Linked DNA regions of Homo sapiens: region 1 is linked to region 2. The links come from fine-mapping of genetic effects on gene expression. A gene starts in region 2. The other region holds a variant in brackets. All regions are shown on one strand. Distances are between the middles of the regions. Region 1 overlaps TCP11L1 (t-complex 11 like 1). Region 2 holds the start of TCP11L1 (t-complex 11 like 1).

The links. PIP is the estimated chance that this variant, and not a neighbour inherited with it, causes the effect. A credible set is the group of variants that fine-mapping cannot tell apart.
Region 1: its variant is the best candidate, but not a certain one, in a credible set for the expression of TCP11L1 in visceral fat (GTEx, PIP 0.57).

What each region holds. Positions count from the first base shown.
Region 1 is chr11:33,066,447-33,069,350 of GRCh38, forward strand. TCP11L1 (t-complex 11 like 1) reads left to right here. Exons shown (of 10, transcript NM_018393.4): 9 at 2,241-2,413. Among named protein-coding and RNA genes, the nearest start is that of LINC00294, 8.3 kb to the right of the region's middle. RefSeq lists an enhancer at 1,805-2,306. The variant C/G (reference allele first, on the strand shown) is at 1,578.
Region 2 is chr11:33,037,864-33,040,767 of GRCh38, forward strand. It overlaps TCP11L1 (t-complex 11 like 1), which reads left to right and starts at 1,709. Exons shown (of 10, transcript NM_018393.4): 1 at 1,709-1,929. RefSeq lists enhancers at 1,112-1,659, 1,380-1,729, 2,210-2,529 and a silencer at 1,710-2,109.

The sequences.
Region 1 (2,904 bases), 29 kb after region 2:
AGAAGTGGCTCGGGCTGGGGGGTAAGCCATGAGCAGGGTGGGGAGCGCTGGTACCAATGGTTGCTTGCCTTGAGGAATTGGAGATCCCGGGCTTAGAGGTCCCGCGGCCCTCCATTCCCTGTTAGCATGCTCCTCCCGGGGCCTGGCTCGGTGTTGAGTGCCATCAACTCATTTGTTCTCCCTACGCAGGGAGCAGGATGCTGTCTGACCCCTTCCTTCTTTAATGGGGTTGTCTTTGTCTCCTGACCTCCAAGGTTCTTGTGTTTGTTTGTTGAGTGCTTTATTCCTCTCCCAAAGCCATTCAAATGTATTAAACTCTTACTGGAGCTTATGAAGAAACTGGAACCCAGAGACATTAATTGGGACAAAAATGTTTGTGACTAGGACCTGCAGTAAGAAATTCATTTTCCATTGTGACCTAGTACACACTTAACACACGTGTAACAGAAACGAAAACTTCTCAAACTGGAACTGACCCTAACTGTGTTTAATGCAGCCTGATTGTTTCTACTCTATTCTTATTCCATTAAAAAAAAAAATTGGTTGCTACCCACTGAATTGCTTTCATAACCGACTAACAGTGAAAAGCAGAGCCCTAGAGGAAGGTCATGAGAGAAACCAGCTATATTCCTGCAGAGCTGCATGTATGTGGTTGAAGTGTTCTGCCCTTGCTTGTTCCCTGTAGGCGTTCTGTGCTCAGTGTAATGCATCATTTTCTTACCCAGCACGAGTCCGCATCTGCACGCGTGCAGGCTTCAGTGACCGCTCCTACCATGGAGTCATGTTGGGTGACTTCTATGGTTTCCAGCCTATAGAATATCTTTGAGTGGTTCTAAGTAAATGCTCTATCTAACAAGGTCCAATTCAGAGACTTCTTCAAGGGAAGTACCCCCTAAACATTCTCATCCTTACAAAATGGAGGAATTTTACTGCTGAATTTTCACAAAGCATGGCTGTGTTCAGTGCAGTGTGGGGCGTGTCCGTAAGTTGTGACTAGGGCCTCAACAGTTTTGACAGTCAAACTAGTTTGCTGAGAGGCCAGGAAACTTGTTTGCTCAGCTGAGGGCCTAGCCTGAGGCCTTTGCACAGGTACAGCTCTGGGCTGTCACCTAGGTCCCCTGCCTGGAGAACTACTCTGTCAAAGCTCCCGCTGAGGGTGGGATCCAGGTCAGTGCTTTCTTGGGAGCCCAGCCTTGCACTCCCATATCCTCCCTGGTCCTCCAGGGGTGGGCACAGAGCTGGTGCCAATGGTGAGTGCCAGGGCTTGCTCCCATGCCCCCCAGTAATTCTACATACAAAGGATCTAGACCCACAACAGAGGCAGTTACCTTCTCACAGCATGCCTGCCAGCATGGGGGCTCCCCACAGGCACCCTGGGAGAGCCTGGGGGACCCAGGGTATCCAGGTACTCTTTTTTTTTAACTTTAGGATTTCACTTTTCGTTATTCTTTTATTTTTTAAAAATTTTTTAATTTTTATATATTTTTTTATTTTTTTGTGATGGAGTTTCACTCTTGTTGCCCAGGCTGGAGTGCAATGACGTGATCTCGGCGTCCACTTCCTGGATTCAAGTGATT[C/G]TCCTACCACAGTCTCCTGAGTAGCTGGGATTACAGGCACCTATCACCATGCCCAGCTAATCTTTTTGTATTTTTAGTAGAGATGGGGTTTCACCATGTTGGCCAGGCTGGTCTTGAACTCCTGACCTAGAACTCCTGATCCATCTGCCTTGGCCTCCCAAAGTTCTGGGATTATAGGCGTGAGCCACTGAGCCCGGCCTCTTTATTCTTTTAAAATTAGTTAATACATGTGTATGTTTCAAAAATCAAAAGGTACAAAAGGGCATCCAATGAAGAGTTTCTCTCTCCCTCTTGTCCCACAGCTACCAAATGCCTGCTTTCTTGTGTATTCCTCCAGAGGTATATCAAGATATTCTGAGGTCATTCCAGGCTGATTTTATCACACAGAGGCTAGCAGGAAGTTGTGCTTTGGGTCGTTGGTCCTGGTATACTCTGAGCCCCTGCCCTTCCCACTGTCCTTTCTAGCAGAGGGAGAGAAAGAAAGTCCCCCTGGTCAGGTATGCACAGCCTGAGAGGTAAGGTGGCAGGGAAAAGAGTCTCAAATTGTCCCTTGAACACACAAATCCAGTTATTGGTGCCGTCATTCTCACCCGGGTGTGGGCGGTTGGAGCTGGTTAGAGGTGTATTTTACTTATAGGCCCTTTCTCCCCTCCTCTGCCCCAGCTCCTTCCATCTGAAGGACGTCCTCACTACCATCGGGGAGAAGGTGTGCCTGGAGGTGAGCAGCTGCCTCTCCCTGTGTGGGTCCTCTCCCTTCACCACGGACAAGGAGACCGTGCTCAAGGGCCAGATCCAGGCCGTGGCCAGTCCCGATGACCCCATTCGCAGGATCATGGGTACGTTTGGGGAAGGCAGGCAGCAGGGATGTGCCCTCTGAGGGGCTGGAGCACGAGTCCATCTGAAGAAACCTGAGGGCTCAGCTGGAGTTAAGGTGCTGATGGGTGAGGAGATGGTGTAATGAAGCACCACAGAGAGACCAGGGCCACCCAACAGATGGGCACAGGACCAGGCAGCCATCATTGTTCTAAGGGCTGCAACCTTGGAATCACTCTCCTGGGTTCACAAGCAGTGTCCCAGGGCAGCTTGGGCGTGTAACTTGACACTCGAGTTTCCTCATCTCTAAAGCAGGAATAAGGGCAGCAACCTTACAAGGTCGCTGCAGGAACTCCCTGGGATGAGAAGGTGAAGCGCTTTCCGTAGTGCCTGGCAGCACATAGTAAGTGCTCAGTAAATAGGAGCTGTTACGAAAAGAGCTGAATAGTAAAATGAAGATGTTATTTAAAAATACTATTAAAATATTATTAAATATTAGTATGTAATACTATTA
Region 2 (2,904 bases):
CAGGTGATCCGCCCGCCTCGACCTCCCAAAGAGCTAGGATTACAGGCGTGAGCCATTGCACCCAGCCATATTAATCTTTTAAGGAAGGTTCTAGCCTGCTTCCCCAGGGAGCTTTTAAAACTTGTCTGGCATCACCCTCCCCGGAGTTTTGGATGATACTTTTCCAACCCCTGCCCCTGAGATTCCAAGTTGTATTTGTAGTCAGGGCTGAAAAACACTAGAGACTTAATGGTACGAGTTTAGACTCAGAAGAACTGCATGTTTTCTTTGCAGATCTTTTTTTTTTTTTTCAGACGGAATCTCACTCTGTCACCCAGGCTGCAGTGCAGTGGTGCGATCCCGGCTCACTGCAACCTCTGCTTCCCGGATTCAAGCAATTCTCCTGCCTCAGCCTCCCAAGTAGCTGGGATTACAGGCATATGCCACCATGCCCGGCTAATTTTTTTGTATTTTTAGTAGAAACGAGGTTTCACCATATTGGCCAGGCTGGTCTCGAACTCCTGACCTTGTGATCCACCCACCTCCGACCTCCCAAAGAGCTAGGATTACAGGTGTGAGCCACCGCGCCCAGCCATTCTTTGTAGATCTTAACAGTTCCATTTAGTTGAGTATCTTAAGGGTTTTTGGTGTTTTTTCCTCCAAAAAGTGAATCTTCACCAGAGAACTTCTGTTTTTGTCTTTTTTTTTTTTTTTTTAAAGCAAAGACTTTAATGTGCAAGTTAGTAAATGGTTTGAGGGTCTGGTATTGCACTCGGCCTTCAATACGTTAGCAATAACTACCCACATGTGATCTATTTAGAAGCAGTGTTTGAAAGCACCAATGTCACCCCATCTGCTTTTTTGTAGTTTTTTTTTGTTTGTTTGTTTTTGAGACAGAGTCTCGGTCTGTCTCCAGGCCGCAGTGCAGTGGCGCGATCTCGCCTCACTGCAACCTCCGCCTCCCAGATTCAAGCGATTCTCCTGCCTCAGCCTCCCGAGTAGCTGGGACTACAGGCGCGCGCCACCACACCCAGCTAATTTTCGTATTTTTAGTAAAGACGAGGTTTCACCATGTTGGCCAGGATGGTCTCGATCTCTTGACCTCGTGATCCGCCCGCCTCGGCCTCTCAAAGTGCTGGGATTACAGGCGTGAGCTGCTGCGCCCGGACTAACTTTTTTTTAAAGCTGAGGAAATGAGAGAAGGGGAATAAACTTTGTGTAGCTACAAACAGGATGGCAAAATTAAATTTCAAAGAACGGGCGGGGAAGGTTTCAGATGCAATGGCTTCTTATTCCTTCTTTTGACTGACCCGCGCCTTCTCCGCCTCCCTTTCTCCTCGCGTCACCCGCACCAGCGGCTGGGATGCGGCGCGCGTTCCGTCTTTCCGTATGGAAACATGGCGCCTAGGGGCGGGCCATCCCCAGCTTCGAGCCACCGCCAGCTGAGACTCATCGGCGGGCACTCGGCCATGCCTCTCGCGTTTCCGTACGAAAACATGGCGCCTCACTGCGTGCGGCGGGCGACTCTTGGCTGGGAGCCACTGGCCACGGAGCCCCCTGAGCGGTCATCGGCCATGTTTTCCACCTCTCCCTGAGGAAACACGGCGCCGCCCAGCTGCGAGTCACCGCTTACTGAACCCCTTCGGCAAGCAGGGGAAAGACCCTCCCGCCTTTCCGTACGAAGACATGGCGCTGCCCTATATTGGGCTGGCGCCTCCCGGCCAAGAGCAGTCTCCTCCTTCCTGATGCTGAGAAGCGGCCGCTCTGACCGCTGCCCACCCGAGTCGGGCTGGGAGGACCGCCCGCCGCGTGGCGAGGGATGCGGCCTCGGAGGGGCAGAGGCTGAACCGCCCCTGCCTGCCGCGCATCCCTCCGGCTTCCGCCGCGGCGCCAGCCCGCGCCTGATTCGCGGCGGGAGCGGCAGGAGGGAGAACGCCGACTCCGTGGCAGGTGAGAGCGGGAGCTGGGGCGGAGGCTGGCGGGGCCCGTCCGGGAGGCGCGCGGTCCAAGTCGCAGGCATCTCTTCGCCTCTTCCCGTCGGATCCCATCCCGGGATGTCGGGGGCAGGCGAGGAAGAGGCGGGGTCCGCGGGCGGGTGGAGCTCACCCCTCGAGGCTGTCCTCTCGGCGCGCCCGCGTCCTCCCCTACTCCCGGCCCTGCCACTCCCTCGCTGGCCTGAACAGCTGTTTACAACGGAATCCGGACGCCGGGCGCGAGTGGAGCTCAGTGCCAGAGGAGGGGATTCCCGGCGCCGGGGGACAGAGCCCCTTTTTTCTTTTGCCGAAAGACCCTTTCTGCTGGGGAGCCTCTTGTGTCCAGCCTAGGCCCGCGTGCAGCGCCGACGGATGACCGTCTTCTTGGCAAGTGCGAGGATCCTCCTCCCCTCGGCTCTCTTTTTAGACACAGTGGGGGTTGAATGGATGCGCGCGATATAAGCAAATTAAATGGTTCGTGGCCGCATCCTAGAGCCCTTTAATTAGAGTTACCATTTGTAGAAGGCCTGCCGTGCACAATCCCTCGTTTCATCTCCCCCCAAACCGAGCAGGTAGGTAGCTGTGTTTTACAGAGGAGGACACTGAAGTTACACAGCTAGTAAAGAGCCAGAATTGGGGCCCAGGTATGTCTGAAACCAACGCCCAGCCTCCCAGATACAGTGACATCACAGAGATGACGTAGGGATTCATCTCTATCAACAGATACTTGTGGGTGTCTATTTGGGGGATATACAGATGGAGCATAAGTGGGGAATATGACTGGTCCTGGCTCTTAAGAAGTTCGAAATCTAGGTGGGGAATTTTAAAATAAAAACTAGCACTTTTACCATCTGGCCCCAACGCATCTTTCCATCATCTCTAGCCACTTCCTTTTCTCATTTTCTTGTGCCTTGGCTTCTGCCCTCTGAGTGAAATGCCCTCCTTTTCACCT